2 separate regions of the Homo sapiens genome follow, and region 2 is linked to region 1. Evidence: fine-mapped expression QTL. A gene starts in region 1. The other region holds a variant in brackets. All regions are shown on one strand. Distances are from middle to middle.

Region 1 (9,560 bases):
CTCGCTCTGTCGCCCAGGCTGGAGTGCAGTGGCACGATCTTTGCTCACTGCTAGCTTCGCCTCCCAGGTTCACGCCATTCTCTTGCCACAGCCTCCCGAGTAGCTGGGACTACAGGTGCCTGCCACCACGCCCGGCTAATTTATTTTTATTTTTATTTTTTGTATTTTTAGTAGAGACAGGGTTTCACCGCATTAGCCAGGATGGTCTCGATCGCCTGACCTTGTGTTCCACCGTCCTCGGGCTCCCAAAGTGCTGGGATTACAGGCATGAGCTACCGTGCCCGGCCTATTTACTTACTTTTAAGAGAGGAGTATGATCTCATTCATATGATTTTATATTCCTAAATACTGCCCTATTTTTCAAAAAACAAGTAATTTTTCACACTTGCCTTGATAAATATGTTATTTAAGCAGAAAAAATTCATAGCCAGCATATTTTCATAAAGTATAAGCAAATTTCAGAGGAATTACAAGTTGATTGTTTTAGTAATAAGAACTCGAACCTCTAAATGTCTATTATTTTATTTATTTATTTAGTTTTTTGAGACAGACTCTCGCTCTGTTGCCCAGGCTGGAGTGCAGTGGCTGACCTCAGCTCACTGCAGCCTCCGCCTCCCAGGTTCAAGTGATTCTCCTCCCTCAGTCTCCCAAGTAGCTGGGACTACAGGCATGTGCCACCACGCCTTGCTAATTTTTATATTTTTGGTAGAGACGGGGTTTCGCCATGTTGCCTGGGTTGGTCTCAAACTCCTGACCTCAGGTGATCTGCCGGGCTTAGCCTCCCAAAGTGCTGGGATTACAGACATGAGCCATGGCGCCCCACCCAAATGTATATTATTTTAAAGTCGCTATAGAAAAAGTGAAAATATTTAAAGTAGTTAACACTACATAGAGTTGGTTTAATCAAACAACTCACAATAAGCTTACTTGATATTGATGAAGCCAAACATAGTTAATAAATAAACAGTAATAACAGCTCGTAAAGACCATGACTTCCTGGGGGAATGGTGCTATTAACATCCTCCTTCCAAAACTGGGAATTCCAATTACCTTCAACTGTGCATGAGCAAGAGCTTTGTAATATTGCACATCCAAATGATGATCATTCTTGATAAACCCGAAAAATGCACTCATTTTAATTTACAAATTCTTAACATTAGTAACTTCCTATATCTTACTTGGTGGATTTCTAATTGTATGTAAAAATAAAAATCTACAAATTATTTTCCTATGATAATTGAAGAAATGCCTTGGGCATTTGTATCATTTAATACAAATGAGGTATACCAGTGGACCATGGCCCTATTTGGAGTATCACTGGTCTAGACTTTTCAAATATAATCACTAAAAATGTATCTTAGTCATGAATGTTTGGTTGCCAAGAATGTAAACCTACCTTTATTAACTTCTTAGGGCTACTGTAACCAATACCGCAAACAACAGAAGTTTATTCTCTCACAGTTCTGGAAGATAGAAGTCTGAAATCAAGATGTGGTAGGGCCATGCTCCCTCCAAAGGCTCTAGGGAAAAATCCTTTCTTGTCTCTTCCAGCATCTGGTGGCCCCAGACGTTCCTTGGCCTATGGCAATCTAACCCCAATCACCACCTTTACCCTCACATGGCTGTCTTCTCCCTATGTGTCTCTTTGTGTCCTCTCTTCTTATGAAGACACCAGTCATTAGACTTAAGGCTGATAGCACTTTGCATAGCACTTCTGTGATGACATTGCTTTAACCTGATAGCTTTGACACCAAAAAAGAGGAAAAGGGAGAAATGATGGTTTAGCTTTACCTAAGTTTAATCCCGAATGAGCTCATATTAAACAATTGTATCAGCAAAAACCATATTTCCAAATAAAGTCACATTCTGAAGTTCTAGGTGGACATGAAATTTTAGGGAACATGATTCAACCTCTACAATGACCCAAGCCAGCTCAAGTCAAAAAGTTTTTAAGGTTTAGTTATCACAGAATGCAAGGAAAAGCTAAACTGTCTGGCTTTTCAAAGTACAGGAACCAGACAGATACATGGCTTTCAGTGGCAAAAGTTCATGATCTTCAGTCTAGGGTCTACCATGTATATGACACAGTTATGGAGGAAGCATATTTCCCATAAAATACAGGCAAGTGTAATAAAAGTCTGCTTCTCCTCTGTATGGCTACCACCTTGCTCAGTTTTGTGGAATCTTAGTTATCTGGGAAGGGAATACGATTGGCCCAGCTTGGGTCTAGTGTTCCCCTTTGATTCAGTCAAGTCTGGCCAGGACCGTGGGTGGTAGGATGGTGATGGTGGTGAGGTCATAATGACTGTGAGCAGGAGCAGATTCTGTGAGAAGGGACTTGAGCAGAGTGGGCATTTTGATCCACATGTCAATATTAAATGATCCCAGCACAGTGTTTGGCACAAAGTAGGTGTTCCCAAAATACTGTTGAATAAGATGTAAATAATGGTCTGATCTTCCTTGGTTCTTTCCAAGTACTCCTGTTCCATCTCTAGCACTTCCTATTTTTGTCCTGTTCTCATGAAGCCATATCCTTTGTGTAGACTCTTTGTTTGTCCCATCCCATAAGCTCCTGTTGCCCTCGGCACACATTCACCCTTGTCTTTCTCTGCCATCCACTCCCAGAACACCTTCCTGGTTTTTCCTTACTACCTCAGACCCCAGTGTGTACTCTAATCCAATAAGCCATAGTACATAGAAACACAATGGAAAATAATGTTTTTACATTTAAAAGCTGTTTCTCACAATCTCATCTCATTTTTTTTTGGCCACAATCCTGAGAAGTGGGTATTATCATCCCTATTTTCAGATAAGGACTTTGAGGCTTTTGAGTGTTAAATTGTTATGGACAATGCTAGTAGGTAGGAGAACTGGGACTTGAACTCAGATCTTCTTACTCTAAGTTCTGTGTTCCTTTGAAGATAGTACTCCTTGATGATAGCACTTTGGATAGCACTCCTGTGATGACATTGCTTTGACCTGATAGCTTTGACACCAAAAAGGAGGAAAAAGGAGAAATAATGGTTTAGCTTTACCTTTATAAATGCTTGTTAGTGGGAGGGACCCCATCTCATCAACAATGTGACATTTTCTCTTGAAATGTCTCACCCAGCTCATAGGTGTGCCCATTTAAAACATGCAAGGTAAACATCGAGCCAACGTTTCACAAATAATCTTTTGTCCAGCATTTGAGATCTTTGGCAGTTTTACTTTCTTCTCCCACACTTGCCTTTCTTATCCCAGAATGCCTCTGTCTGCTTGTGTTTCTTTGGATGTTAGATTCATTCCTTGTGCACACCATTACCTGACCTCTGTAGAATGCCCTTCCTATTCTCCCAGGCTTAAAGCTCTTCTATGGACCACCTCCTTCCTGCCTTCTTCTCCAGACTTACATCTAAATGTAAGATTCCTGCACTTTTGCTGGTCTGGCCTTTAAATTGCACTCATGCTAATCAACTGACCTGTTGAGCTCTCTCCTTCTCTTCTTCCTTGAACCTGCCTTGATAGATTCATCTTTAGGTGTTCACTTTCCCTAGAATTATTGCCTATTCTACTCTTATTACACTTAGTAAACAATTTTTATTATTATTTATCTTTCTACGTAAGCATCTTGTAACTCAGAGTGTTGGTACCTTGAGCATAGGGGTCCTACCCTGCACCTAGGCCAGGACTTAAACAGGATAGGTGGTCAAAGAAATTTAGTTGAATATATCCATAACTCCACCAAAAACCATTTTTAGAGGCATGGCAGGATGGGAGGTTGATTTATTCTTTATTTTCCCTCTTTGTCACGTATATGCTAGTCTCACTAAAATATTTTGTATGTAGTGATGAGCTCTGGGTTTGGAGATAAAGGACCTGGTTTCAGATTCTGTCTGCCTTGTATTAGCTGTGTAGCCTTGGACAAGTCATTTAATTTATTTTTATGTAAGTTTCTTCAACTGGAAAATGGGTAGGAATACCTGTCCTAACCCCCCACAGTGTTGTAGTGAGAACCAAATGAGATGATGCTTGTGAAAGAATTTACCAATCTGTAAAGCACTGTGTAATGGATTATAAACACTGCCTCCTCATGTGCTTACCCTGACACGTTTTATGCTTTCATCCTTCTAAGAAGCAGTTGTTTGTGCATGGGGATCACCTGGCATTCTTGCTGCAGCACTCCATCATAACCCTCAGCACAGAATGCAACATACAGTTTGCCAATCGACTTCAGTGGGATGTGAAAAGTGAAAAGTGCATTTAATTCTCACTAAGATGCCTTGGCTCAGATTCAACAAATGCCATTTACTTGAAGGCCTTTTATTTGCTTTTTCTGCCTGCCCCCCTGCCAAAATCTTCATCTATTTGTTCATTTATTCATTTACTCATTTAACATAATTGTTTTGAGTGCCTACCAGGGTCATGTTAGACACCCAAGAAGTAAAGTGAGTACTTCAAGATATTCACGTTGTACTGAGTGTAAGACACACAAAAACTTACAGTAGATAAAAGAACTATAATAGGATATATAGGATACACTGTGTACAGAGGTAGGAAAGATCATTTTTGCGAAGTGAGGGAGTGTGTGTCATGAAAGGCTTCAAAGGAGGTGCTAGTCTGTCTTCAAAACTAAGTAGCAGGAGAAGGTAGAGGCGATGCAGGTGAAAGAAACAGCTTTCACAGCAGGTGAAAGAAAAAAAGCGCTCTGGGAACCATTGTTAGCTCAGGCTGTGATTTCGTTCATTCTATTACAGTGGGTTAAATTACCTGTTGTTTGCCAAACCCTATACCAGTTTATGGGGTTACAGGGGTCAGTGTAGGCATCATGGGGGCGGACGGTGAAGTAGCAAAGGAAAACCAGCCACAGTATGAAGAGCCTCGAACAACCATTTTACTCCGTGCCAGTACACATGGGAAAGGGTTGAAAGGATATGTGAACCTGCCGCCACCAATTCCTTGATTATTCACTGGAACCCTTTCAGCCAGAGAAGATAGACACAGTACTGGGCTTTACTGAGGACTGGGTGGCGCTGTCTTTAGGGGCAGGTTAATAATATACACCTAAGTGACAAGAACACTCACACCCGAGGAAATTAGAGTAGTAAATAGACACGTGGAAAAATGTGCCATCTTATCAGTAATTAAAGAAGCAAAAATGTAAACAAAGCGGCACCTAGTAAGGTAGAAGACAAAGCAAAATATCTAAGGCTGTTAAATAATGGGGAAGCAGGCGCCTTAGAAAACAAGGGCAAATGTAAAAAACCTCTAAGGCAAGAGTTCGGTGGGGAATCTGCGGGATTCTGTGTGCTGAAGCGCAGGAGGCACGAGTCACCTTTGCAGTCTCCGGTACCAAACGGGCAAGGGGTCCCCGTAAGACTGCTGCACCCTGGCCGAAGGTAGCGGGTGAAGCGCCTCGGCGTCTCTAGGCAACCGATCAGCCCGCCCACTCCGGGGTGACTTCCTCGTAATTGGCTCTCGAATCCACCAATGGGCGCACAGGGGGAGCTTCCCGCCACCTCTGGCGCCCGCTTTCAAACAGCCGTACTTTGCAACTGCAGGTGGACTTCTCAACCAAGCTTGAGGAAGGCGGAGACTTCTGCCTCCTCGCTCTGCCCTGAGCTGGCACGGCTCCGCCCACCGGGCGAGCTTCTAGTCGGCGATTGAAGGATGCGAGTGCTCCTTAAGGGCCTCCGCCCCGTGAGTTCGGTTGTGACTAGGAAGGAGCTAGTGGACTAGAGCCAGGGTAAGGGGATCTGCTAGAAGTTGGTCTTCCGCCAGGACTAGAGTTTCCTCGCGGTAACAGCCTCCGTGGCCTCCGGTAAGTTCTGATTCACGGGTGAGCTTGGACCTGGGGTTAGAGGAGTTGCGGGGTCCTCGGGATGCTGGCTGAGGGTTCCTGGGGGGGCTGACCTGCCCCCTCCCCAAATCCCGCGGTGGTGGACTGCCCGCATGTTGCGGGCTCAGCTTTTACCTTAACGTGTCATTTAGACCTCTTCATTCCTCCAATATCCTACTTAGAAGTGACATATGGGAAGCCCGCCTCGTTTCCAGGCTGCTGGGGTCGCCCTGAGACCCTACTCTGCGGACCCCGCCTTGGTCACCCTGGCGTCACGCCTGGCTCACAGTAGGTGCTCTGTGCACGTGTGTTGACCGAGTACAAGTGACGCTGGCACCCGAAGCCAGTAGCCCCGGGCATCCTGGGCCCCGTGCGGCTTTGGTCATGTTTGTAGTGCCGTAGCTGACGCCAAACAGTTCCTCAAGGTCATTCGCTCAGCCTGTGGATGCTTATTGTGTATTAGCATTACTCGCTCCGCCCTCTGGGCAACTTGAATCAATTTGTCCAAAGTGCTGTTATTAGCACTGATCACAAGATGTTGTGATCATTTGTTTATATGTCTATTTTCTTTCCCTTCATCGTGTCCTGTTAAACTTTGTAATCTTGAACAGTGCTTGGTAAATTGTCGAATGAATGAATAAGGTGTCTCCACCAGGTGTTGCAAGTCTAAACCGGGCTATGTGCTCTGGCTATTTCCATTCTAGAAGGCGAGTTATGTCAGCAAGTAAGTAGAATTTCCCAACTCCAAGTGCAGTTCTTAGAAACCCCTTTTGTGGGGGTTTATAACCCTTCCTATATCGTAGTCATGAACTTGAGTCTGATTTAAGCCTATTATCACCTTATACCTTCATAGTGCGTGACAATGAACATGCACTCCCTAGACAGGTGAATGCACTCAACTAAAGAGAAGCTGAAGTTGAAGCCATAAGAAAAGCATAAGAAATACAGTCTGAAAGTGCAAAGGAGTGGCCAGCTCCATGGGGGAACAGGCTTGGGAGGGCATCTTGAAGGAGGGTGGCATTTTTGTTCCATAGGAGGTTGCATTATTAGAAGTGACATTTCTCATAGGCTGCACATTCACCTTTTCTCAGATATGCGGAATCCTCTTTATTCCCTAAACCTCTTCGGTAGCTGGCAGACTCCTATTCATCAGTAATAATGTCATAATAGTAATAAAACTACAATGTATTGATTGGTACATAGTGCTAATTACTTTACATGTAGTATCTTGTGAATCCTCAGAATCAATCTTTGAAGTAGGTATTATTTTTACCCCCATTTCTTTAACGTAGAAGCAGAAACAGTTTGCTCAAGATTGCACTGCTGATAAATAGAAGAGCCAGAATTGAGCCCAGGTTGTCTGAATGAGTGCCCTCATTCTTAGAACCACTTATAGCCATATTGTGTCCTTTAAGATTTATTTCTAATCTAAAAGCTCTTTTTTTTCTGTAAAACTTCTCTAAACTATCCTTTCTTCTTAGGAAAAGTAATTTGTGCTTTGTACTTTCATCTACTACGGAATTTATTACAATATGTTATTGTAACTGTTTATATCAGTGGCTCTATCTAAGAGAGGGTGAGCAGAGACAGTGAGCTCCTCATGGCTGGTACCATGTCTTAGGTGCATCTAGGATATGATCTGGAACACAGTGGGTATTCAATAAAATTTTATTGAAGTAATGAATTCGTATAAGGTAACATGCCTATATCATATTCAGTCAACAAATATTTGTTATGTACCCACCATGTGCAAGCAGGCAGATACATTTTAATTCTGCCTTCAGGGTGCTTATAGTTTATTAGATGAAGCAAAAACAATGCTACTTTTGCTTTGTAATCTTTTGTCCAAATACCCATTGCTTTTGTTGCAAGGAGGGCAGAGAAAACAACCGGGGACAACAAAAGGAATGCTGGGTCAGAGCATCCATCTGAGTGTAACAACAAGACATACTTTTTATAGTCTTGTTAAGGGTTCAGAAAAAGTTATCTAGGAAGAAAGTCTACCAGACTGCTATTGAAGAAGAAAACCAAAACATACTGTATACTTAATCTGCATCTTGATTTCTCAAGTGGTCAGCCTTGAGTCAATAGATATAGAAAATTTTCAGTATTTTTACTAGTGGCATAGTATTGACAAATTAATTCAAAATAATTTTACTAGTGTAAATGTTAATTTTCAATATATTAATATTGATAGTTTTCAAGATGGTTTAGCAGTTGATATTTTCACCAGCAACTCATGAGCCATACAAAATACAAAATAGTCACCACTGGGTGATAACAAGTTTTTTTTTTGTTTGTTTGTTTTTTCAATCTAGTGGTTGAAAATGGCATATTGTTTAAATGACACTTCTTTGAAACATCACGAGCTTAAGCATCTTTTCAAACTAATTGATTTACACTTTTTAAAATAAATTGTCATGTCAGTCGCCCAATTTTATATTGGATTGTCTTTTTCTCATTTCTTTGTAATAATTTTATATTGGGACTTTGTCAGGTGCTTTGCAAATTTTTTTTATTCTTATTTTTCTTGACTTTGTTATTGATGTATTTTTTCATATATAATATTTGACTCGTTAATGATGTCTTTTGCCTTAAACAAAATTTTATTTTTTGTGGTTAGGTTTCCATCACATTTTTCTTTATGGCTTTTGGATTTACTATCTTGCTATTTTTTTTTTTTAAAGAAGTCTCTTTTGTTGTTCTGAATATTATACTAAAGTCTCTGGTAGCAGTGATAATGAGTGGTGATTAATAAGTTAAGGTATTAGCTTTTATTTTAAGTCTCATTTAAAATATGTATTACCTTTTTACTATATATATTTTTAACCACATTAAGTTGATCAGGTTTCCCTTTATGTCTGAAATCATTTCTTAAAGTCTTTTATAGTTTATAGTTCTGATAAGGAAAACTTATACCTTCTTCAGTGGGGGAGATTTTGGTCTTTTCAGGTATTTTTAGATGTCTTCTTTAATGACATGTTTTGAATTTAAAATAACATTAAAGATATATACTTTGATATTTTACATTCTCTTTAAAAACAAAACCCTAAGTATTCTCTATCTGAGAAAAAGTAGCTGTCTATTTAAAATATTAGTAGCTACATTTTTAGCAATAGGCTCTTATAAATCTTAATGTTCTTTTTCAATAATCAACATCAGTTGATGGCAGGTTAATAAAGGATGGGAACAAACCTCTCTTCTCTAACTTAATGAAGGAGAAAGTAACCCAAATTCCATATTTCGTCTTGTATTTATATTTGAATGAAAGAAAGGTAGAAGACACAGAATTCAGAAACAGAAAGGATTTTTTCTGCCTGGAGGATTCAGGAATTTCTTTAAGGTCCAGCTTAATTTCATCTCTTTTTTTTTTTTTTTTTTGAGACGGAGTCTCGCTCTGTCGCCCAGGCCGGACTGCGGACTGCAGTGGCGCAATCTCGGCTCACTGCAAGCTCCGCTTCCCGGGTTCACGCCCTTCTCCTTCCTCAGCCTCCCGAGTAGCTGGGACTACAGGCATCTCTTTTAAGGACATAGGATTTAATTGGGCTAGTATTTTCAATATATATAGTGTTCTGTAGAATATTAAGTCTATTTGCATAGTGGAAAAAAATCTAGAGACATGAGATTGTGTGTTTTTCCCTCACCATTTCATGTTACAGGCTTTTTATCATATTCATATCTTCATCTTATGTTGACATACAAAAGGATTCTTATAGATAGATTTATTTTCCTCGATATGCAT
Region 2 (9,560 bases), 21 kb after region 1:
GAGCTAATGAGAGTAGGTATCAAGTTTATATTTATTTTTTAATACCACATAATTGGGGAAATTTGAATACACAATGAATATTTGAGCACATTCAAGAATTATTATTTTTTAAGTATGACAATAGAATTGTGCTTGATATTTCAAAGAGCCCTTATTTTTAGAGATATATACTAGAGTATTTATGAATAAACTGACATGAAGTCTAGGATTTACTTTAAAATAATAGGCTGTTGAGGGGTAATGTTGGGTGGGAATATAGATGTGGCCAAATTGGCCATGAGTTCATAATTGTTGAATCTGGGAGATGGGTTCGTGGAGATTCATCATATTATTCTCTTTACTTTCTTATATATTTGAAATTTTTCGTAATGAAAAGTTAAAAGACATTTTTCCAACTTTATATTTCAGTCATTCTAGTTTGTTAAGCCTTTTCTCCTTATTTGTATAGTGTTAAGTATCCTCGCCTATCATACAGGATACCTGGACTTATTTGAAATTTAAAAAAATTTTAAAAGACTTTTTATGAACTTTATATATTTTTTTGACTGAAGCCTAATTTGGAAAATGAAACATAGTTTTCAATCTCAGATTTTTGACTATATAGAAGTGTAATTTAATACATCAGCACTATCATCAACTTTTTTCTTTTGATTTTACAGTTTTTAGTCAACTCTGATATAAATTAGTTTATATTCAGAATTACTTAGATATCAGGTTCAGTCATGTGGCATTTGCCAGTTTTTTTTGTATAGTATGTATATAAATATGAGAATGAAAAAAGTGCTTATAGGTACTAGAGAATTCTGAGATGAAATGCTAGTATCAAAAAACAAAAATCCCAAAATATAAACCCGTATAGTGACTGTACTGAATTACTCTTGTCATACTGTCTGGCACACTAAATAGCTTCTAATTATTGTGCATATTGAAGAGCCAGTGTAATTCTAGAGTGTGGCAGCAAGTGTTTTTGTTTTACTTTTTGTTTCCCTTTAATTAGTAGGGGAAAGGTCATACTGGATATTCTGGCTTACCTGGGCTATACCAAAGAGAAAACTGGACTTTTGGGTTGTGACTTCATATTGTTGCTTCCATCGTACACTGGGACGGCAGGGTAGTTACAGGGGGAGGCCCAGAATTCATTTTCCCCTGAAGGAGTCAACAGCAAATATGAGGATGGCCTCTCTTTGTTCTTAAGTTTTTTGTGGAATGAGGAAGTGGACAGTGTATATGACATAACTGGTTTTAGGTTGAGTAAATGAACCTCACAGCAGTGGCCTGACATCTCCTTAGTGTTTACTCTTTCAGTTCCCTTGAAAAGTTGTATTTGTATCTCCTGGTCTTTCTGCATATAAAAACCTTTCCTTACCTTTCTTAACACTCTGCACTTCTTCAAGTTGAGTCAGTTACACATTTGTCTAAATTTGACATTTGGAAGTTAATTAAATAACTTAATGGTAGTGCCAAATTAGTGATTATAGTTTCTTAGCAACAGTAATTTAAAAAATTTGGAGATGGGGCTAGCTCTACTATAAGACCTATGAGGAGTTTGACTTGTATAAACTTTTCAGTCTTTAATTTTCTTTATTTAACCAGATCTCTTTCTAAAAAGAGGACAGAATTATTTAGTTAGCAAGTGGTTAAAACTCAGTAAATGCATTTATTTCTGATTGTAAGCTAACAGAAACATTGTTCTAGTAGTAAGTAGAATATTTATCATTATGTAGTTGAAGCATACCTACCAATCCTTTTTTCCATTTTTTTTCTCTTTTTAAAGTGGTCCCCAAATGACTAATTGTTTCTAAAAGAAGACTTCAAAAATTTTTTTTTAAATTATGTATTCGTGGAGTAGATTTGGAGGTTTGTTATATGGGTATATTAAATAATGCTGGGGTTTGACTTCTAGTGAACCCATCACCCAAATAGTGAACATAGTACCCAATGGATAGTTTTTCAACCCTTCTCCCCTGCTCCCTCCCCAAAATTCTTGATTAATCTATTCACTAGCTAATTAATTCAGTTATGTGCCAGCATCAATATAAATATAATATTTTCCCCACTCCTGCCTAAAATAAAATATTTTGAGGCTGTCTAGAAATTTTCTTTAAAAATGATTTTATAGAAGCTGATGTACTTGTTTTGTTTTTAATTTTCTGACAGCATATTACTTTATTTCATTGCAGTTGTTATATACTGATTTTTAACTGGCTAAAATGGTAGTTAGTGATTCAGGGTTATAACTTAAACCAGTGACTTTCAAACTTTCCTATCAGTGACCCACTGTAAGAACTATATTTTTTTACATTGTGATATGGTGTACAACATGTATCTATATGAACAGGTATATATAAATGAAACAAGTTTCACAAAATAAGACTGTTTCTTACTACATGATGCACTCTGATATATTCTCTCTCTCTTTTTTAATCCTAGTCACAATTCACTGAATTGATTTCATGATGCTCTAAAAGGTTGTAGTCACAGTTTGAAAAACACTGCTTTAAATGACTATAAATTTATATTTTGGTATGTTTTTATCTAATAAATTGTCTTTAATTCCCAGACTCTGCAGAAAATATGCAGATTATTCAACTTCAGGTTCTTAACAAAGCAAAAGAGAGACAACTGGAGAACTTAATTGAAAAGTTAAATGAAAGTGAACGTCAAATTCGATATCTGAATCACCAGCTTGTAATAATAAAAGGTAAGATGCTGGATGCTGTCATTTATGAGGTACACTGAGTTAGATATCTTGTTTCCAATAACCTCAGATTACATACGAAGCTTAGAGAGTAAAAACACTTGGTCAGAGGGCTCATAGTGAGTGAGGCATAGCAAAACAAAACCCAGGATTTCTGAGTGTTGGCCTTGGATTACTTCTCTTTGGAACACGCTGTTTTGGAGACCAGGCATGGTGGCTTACGCCTGTAATCCCAGCACTTTGGGAGGCTGAGGTGGGCGGATCACTTGAGATCAGGAGTTCAAAACCAGCCTGGCCAACATGGTGAAACCCTGTCTCTACTAAAAATACAAAAATTAGCGGGGCATAGTGGCAGGCACCTGTAATCCCATCTACTTGGGAGGCTGAAGCAGGAGAAGGAGAATCACCTGAACCTGCAGGCGGAGGTTGCAGTGAGCCGAGAAAGCGCCATTGCACTTCAGGCTGGGTGACAGAGTGAGACTCTGTCTCAAAAAAAAAAAAAAGACACTCTATTTTGGAGTCCCTATATTTTCCCTTTTCTCACTTAGGCTTTTAGAATCATTGAACATTATTTAACTGTACTGATGGCATTCTGTCCTAAAAAGTTGTTGATTCCTTATGTCTGATTCCTTATGTCATTACTCTGGATGAAGTATTCCAGCTTTCAGAGTGATTTGTGTTTAGTTTGCACTGCAGCGTTTCCTGAGGCTACAAATTAGCATAAACGTTTTAATCCAAATAAGAGTTAGTGATTGTGAAGTGCCATGTCTGGGATAAACACACAGAGTAAATACAGATTCAAATTATAATTGCTTACTCCTTGTGCTTTCTCTAGTTTTGGTCCACGTTGAACTTTCATTTGCAGAATACTTTTGTGATTGAACTCTAGCTCATTTCAAATTTAATTGATGGTAAAAATGTCTCTTTCTGTAATGCTCATAACATTTATTTTGAGAGAAGAACTTGTGAGCTGTTATAGCAAAGTATGTGGGAAGAATTTAACATTAGGTGAATTTAAGAGTTCATTCCAAGTGGGTCGGGCACGGTGGCTCACTCCTGTAATCCCGGCACTTTGGGAGGTCAAGGAGGGCGGGTCACGCGGTCAGGAGATCGAGATCATCCTGGCTAACATGGTGAAACCCCATCTCTACTAAAAATACAAAAAATTAGCTGGGTGTGTGGTGGCGCCAGTAGTCCCAGCTACTCAGGAGGCTGAGGCAGGAGAATGGCGTGAACCTGGGAGGCGGAGCTTGCAGTGAGCCGAGATTGCACCTCTGCCCTCCAGCTTGGCGACAGAGCGAAACTCCGTTTCAAAAAAAAGAGTTCATTGCAAGTATGTGTAGGATAATTAGTCCTCAGATAACTTCTTTGATTAGCAGGGATTTGTCCCCAAAAGGGATGCAATAATAGTTTTAAAGGAAGTAGTTCTGCTTCTCTAAAAAAATTTTTTTGGTATCAGGTTTGTTTTTTTTTTTAATTTTTAATTTTTAATAATTTATTTATTTGGGGCTGGGTGAGGTGGCTCACGCCTGTAATCCCAGCACTTTGGGAGGCCAAGGTGGGTGGATCACTTGAGGTTAGGAGTTCGAGACTAGCCTGGCCAATATAGTGAAACCCCATCTCTACTAAAAATATAAAAATTATCTGGGAGTGGTGGCAGGTGCCTGTAATCCCAGCTACTGGGGAGGCTGAGGTTGTAGTGAGCCAAGATTATACCACTGTACTCCAGCCTGGGCGACGGAGTGAGACGCTGTCTCAAAATAAATAAATAAGTAAGTAAGTAAATTCTTTATTTAGTTTTCTCTAAATCAACTAAAGTTCATTTTTCTGAATTAAATTTAATTCAACAACATTTATATATGATACAGACGTGACATCTGATTGGGATTGTGACATTGGGGTCCCTCTACAGGAACATTATTTATATAAACATTTTTAATACCGTAGATGAAAAGGATGGTTTGACTCTCAGCCTTCGAGAATCACAGAAACTCTTTCAGAATGGAAAAGAAAGAGAGATACAGCTTGAAGCTCAAATAAAAGCACTGGAGACTCAGATACAAGCATTAAAAGTCAATGAAGAACAGGTACCTATTTTAACTTATGTATGGTAAAAAAATTAAAAGTTTAGTTATTTAACAAAACTTTTTGTAGGGTAGGACTAAATTTAGAAGAACTTTGAAGTTATTGACAAAGCATTAGAACTTAAATTTCCTGACTGCAATAGTTTGCTTCAGAATTGGTATCCCGAGAAGCTTTTATTTTTATTTTTCCTGCTGCTTCTCCATTTGGAGAACTGTTTTTTAAACTTGAGTTTAAAGTGGTGACACATTCACATTCTTTGATTAATGAGATAGCCATTTGATTTTTGGAAATAGTCATAAGTCATTGGTAGCTAAGCCTGGTGGTGGTTGATTCATTTTTTGGCAGGGGGCAGGGTTAAAAATGAAAGTGATGGCCGGATGCAGTGGCTCACGCCTGTAATCCCAGCACTTTGGGAAGCCGAGGCGGTCGAATCACCTGAGGTCAGGAGTTTGAGACCAGCCTGGCCAACATTGTGAAACCCCGTCTCTATTAAAAAGTACAAAAATTAGCTGGGCGTGGTGGCAGATGCCTGTAATCCCAGCTACTCTGGAGGCTGAGACAGCAGAATCGCTTGAACCCAGGAGGCGGAGGTTGCAGTGAGCTGAGATTGCTCCATTGCACTCCAGCCTGGGGGACGAGAGCGAGACTTGTCTGAAGAAAAAAAAAATGAAAGTGACTATGAAATAATGAGCTTGGTTTTGAGTGAGACTTGTAGCTAAGTCTGAGGATGGTTTAATGAAAGAGTTTAAACAGTGTTGTCTCATGTCTGGCTTCTCCTCATCCTTCAGGTCTTAGCTAAAAACAATTACCTTTTCAGAGGACTTGCTATTCACTTTATATGTAAGGTAGCCCATAGCTCCATCCTCCAACTCACCTTCATCATGCCATATTCTATTACTCTATAACTATCTGAAATGATCTCATTT[G/A]TTTACTTGTTATTTATTGTCTCTTCCCACTAGAAAGTAGTAAGAGCTTAGACCTTTTCTGTTTGGTCATTATGTCCTTAGTGCTTAGAACCCTGCCTGGCACAAATGATCTGTGTCATTCAGTGGATGGATCTCTTAGCCATGAAAGCAGTATTGGAATAAATAGGCAATCTCTGGAATAGAATGAAGAATAATTCTCTTGAAATTTTAATTTTTGTATGTAATGTAGATTATTTTTAACTTTTTGAAAACCAATAGTTATTAGATTAAAAAGTTAAGTTGCCTTTATGTAGTAAAAGGTTATAACTTTGTAATCTTTTTTATGTAAGCAGCAGAATCACCAAGTGTATTAGTTTCCTATTGCTGCTGTAACAGATGACCACAAATTCAGTGGTTTAAAACAATACAAATTTATCTCACAGTTCTGGAGGTCAGAAGTCTGACATGGATCTCACTAGGCTAAAATCAGGGTGTCAACAAGGCTGCATTGCTTTCCGGAGGCTTTAGGGGAGAATCCATTTTCTTGCTATTTCCAACTTCTAGAGGCCACCTGTGTTCCTTAGCTTGTGGCCCATTTCCATCTTCAAAGCCAGCAATGAATGGCTGATTGAGTCTCTCTGGTTCTGACTTTTCTGCCTTAGTTTTTCTCATTTATGGACCCTGTGGTTACATTGGGCCCACCTGGATAATCCAGGCTACTCACCTTATTTTAAGGCAATCTAATTAGCCATATTAATTCCACATACAATCTTAATTTTCCCTTGCCATGTAATATAACTGATTCACAGGTTTTGGGGATTAGGACACGGTCATTTTGGAGGGCTATGATTTTGCCTACAATACCAACTGTGCAGTTACAGCTTTGAAAACTTTGTTTTTAGTAAGTGACCATTGGCAGGTTTCATCAGTCTTTCAAGGAACAGTTGTCATTTTTCTGTGACCTAACAATTGGGTTACCCCACACTTTGGTCATAGAGCAATGCAAACAGCACTGGGGCCATCACGGCATCAGCAGATTCCGTGCCTGATAGCCACATCCATCATGCTGCGCAAAATCCTCTTTCACTCCCCTCAGGTATCTACCAAATGTATTTTCTCAGGGAACATTGTTTCCAACAACTATGGGCCTGGAGGGTCCCAGCTAGGGTTGTTTTAAGGAGCTTGAGCCATGATGAGCGGAGACCCCTTCTCTACTCTCATTAAAACATGCTTGAGTTTTATTTTATAGTAAAAGTAAAAGTTTATAGACAGCACAGAGCTAAAATACTCTGTGTATATTTTAAACATGGATATCCTGTGTGTATTTACTAGATGATCAAGAAGTCCAGAACAACTGAAATGGCTCTGGAAAGCTTGAAGCAGCAGCTGGTGGACCTTCATCATTCTGAATCACTTCAACGAGCTAGAGAACAGCATGAGAGCATTGTTATGGGCCTCACAAAGAAGTACGAAGAGCAAGTATTGTCCTTACAAAAGAATTTGGATGCCACAGTCACCGCACTTAAAGAACAGGTTGGGATGATTTCAAATGAGCAACTGTTATCAACAAGTAAAGCTGGTTATGTTTTGTAACTGATATTTTATGGTTCATCATATAGAAGTCTTGGATGTTTGTAGTAAATGTTAGATTGTGTGTGAGGTGAGTGAAACTTAAAAGCCAGTGATATTGGCTGGACGCAATGGCTCACGCCTGTAATCCCAGTACTTTGGGAGGCCAAGGCAGGCGGATCACCTGAGGTCAGGAGTTCAAGATCAGCCTGGCCAACTTGGTGAAACCCCGTCTCTACTATAAATACAAAAAAAAAAAAAAAATTAGCCGGGCGCAGTGGTGCGTGCCTGTAATCCCAGCTACTCGGGAGGCTGAGGCAGGAGAATTGCTTGAACCCGGGAGGCAGAGGTTGCCGTGAGCTGAGATCGCACCACTGCACTCCACCCTGGGCGACAGAGCGAGACTCCGTCTCCCCAAAAAAAAAAAAAAAAAAAAAAGAAGCCAGTGATATTTTAATCTGAGAATACATCCTAAAGGTATACTTTTGGAAACCCTACTTCTTATACGATTATTAGTACTTTCTCAACTTTCACATTACTTGTCCTTTATTTGTAGGGTATTTGTGTATGTTGTTTATATGGTCCTAGAATAAATCCAGACCAAAACAAATGAGTCTGCCAGCGGCTGGCTAGAACTTGAGAGGTTACCTTGGAAGCTTAACCAGTAGAAAACCTTACTTGAGTCTCCCAGCATTTGGTAATTCACCTGTCAATACAGCAATACAGTCTGTTGAGAAATGATTCTTGGGAAGAGAGTAAATTTTGAGGACAGTATAATTTATAAAATAAGACAGTCTGATCTAGACTTAATGAGATTTGCATCTTGAGCATATTGCACAGTGAATTTTTATTATTTTCACTCAAGGGGGAATAAAATATTGAAAGCTAAATGTGAGTCAGGTGGTGAGTTTGCTTGTGCTCCATAACTCTAGGTAATCACTTGAGTGAATAACATTTCAGAATTTATTTTTCTTAATGTAATTTCAAAATTGATTTAACTTAAGGGAAGGAGAGAAGAAAAATCAGATGTGAGGGTATGGAAAATTTCACCACACTTAAAATTCATGCTGATTTGGGTTATTTCTGACCTATATAGCTGCCTCTAATTTTTCCATGCTTTTAGGTAGAACTATATAAGAGTGCATTACTGGCAATAATTATTTATCATTTTATTTTATTTTTACATGTATTTATGTGTGTTTTTATTATATCTATTTCATTATGTATTTATTTTATATAAAAAAATTGTGAATTTGATCAATGTGGAGGATATATAGGAGTAGGGAAAGATGAAGGCCAGTTACGGTGGCTCATGCCTGTAATCCCAGCACTTCGGGAGGTTGAGGCAGGTGGATCACTTGAGCCCATGAGTTCAAGACTAGCCTGGGCAAAATAGTGAATCCTTGTCTTTACGAAGAAAAAATAACAAATTAGCTGGGCATGGTGGCATGCGCCTGTAGTCCCAGCTACTTGGGAGGCTGAGGTGGGAGGATTGCTTGAGCTCAGGAGGTCGAGGCTGCAGTGAGCCATGATTGCACCACTGCATTCCAGCCTGGGTAACAGAGTGAGACTCTTTTTCCAGAAAAAAAAAAAAAAAAAAACGAAGGCTATACCAAATTATTGAAAAGTCTACTTTATAGAATATTTAAACAGAATTTGAGATGTAGCTTCATAAATTTTTATTTTATTTTATTTTAAAGTTAGTTTTGGCCAAACATAGGGTAACATTGAAGTTAGTTGGACTTGGACAGTAGCCCTTCTTGGATGACTGGAGAAGAGTGGATCCTGGTGGCTTTTCCTTATTGGGTTGGGGGTCTCCATTCTCTGTTGACTTAAACACAGTTTCATTAGGGATGGATTGGAAGGAATTTCTAGTGTTTTCTACCCCTGTGCCCACTGCATTACTCTGTTGTCCACTGCCCCACCCCCTTCAATAGAAGAACTCTACAGTAAAGTCAGAACAAATTCTTGATTCTGTGCTGGGTGGGTTTCAGACCCCGGAATCCATAAATTGAAGGTGTTAAGGTCTTTTCCCACTGTTACGTTCTTTGCCTATTTTTACTTTGTTTTATTATTATTTTTTTTAACAGAGCATGGCACTGATGTTAGGCTCTGCATATAATTGCATAGCTGCTTTGCAAAGTGGTGATTCCAAAGCGCCTAACAGAAGCCCAGACCTCGGCATCATGCCACATATCCATGTAACACACCTATACACATATCCCCTGAATCTAAAATTAAAAACAAAATGTCTGTAATTAGTATATTTTGAGAAATTTATGGATTGTAAAATTATTAGTGTT

What was found.
Region 2: its variant is fine-mapped to the expression of CEP152 in whole blood (TOPMed, PIP above 0.99).

Annotation. Positions count from the first base shown.
Region 1 is chr15:48,807,201-48,816,760 of GRCh38, reverse strand. CEP152 (centrosomal protein 152) reads left to right here and starts at 5,692. Exons shown (of 27, transcript NM_001194998.2): 1 at 5,692-5,800. LOC124903487 (a long non-coding RNA gene) reads right to left here and starts at 6,063. Exons shown (of 2, transcript XR_007064626.1): 1 at 5,954-6,063; 2 at 4,852-5,830. RefSeq lists enhancers at 5,263-5,322, 5,981-6,542, 8,765-9,265 and a silencer at 5,498-5,688.
Region 2 is chr15:48,786,462-48,796,021 of GRCh38, reverse strand. It overlaps CEP152 (centrosomal protein 152), which reads left to right. Exons shown (of 27, transcript NM_001194998.2): 6 at 1-12; 7 at 2,561-2,701; 8 at 4,646-4,785; 9 at 7,021-7,221. Among named protein-coding and RNA genes, the nearest start is that of CEP152, 20 kb to the left of the region's middle. RefSeq lists an enhancer at 910-1,189. The variant G/A (reference allele first, on the strand shown) is at 5,710.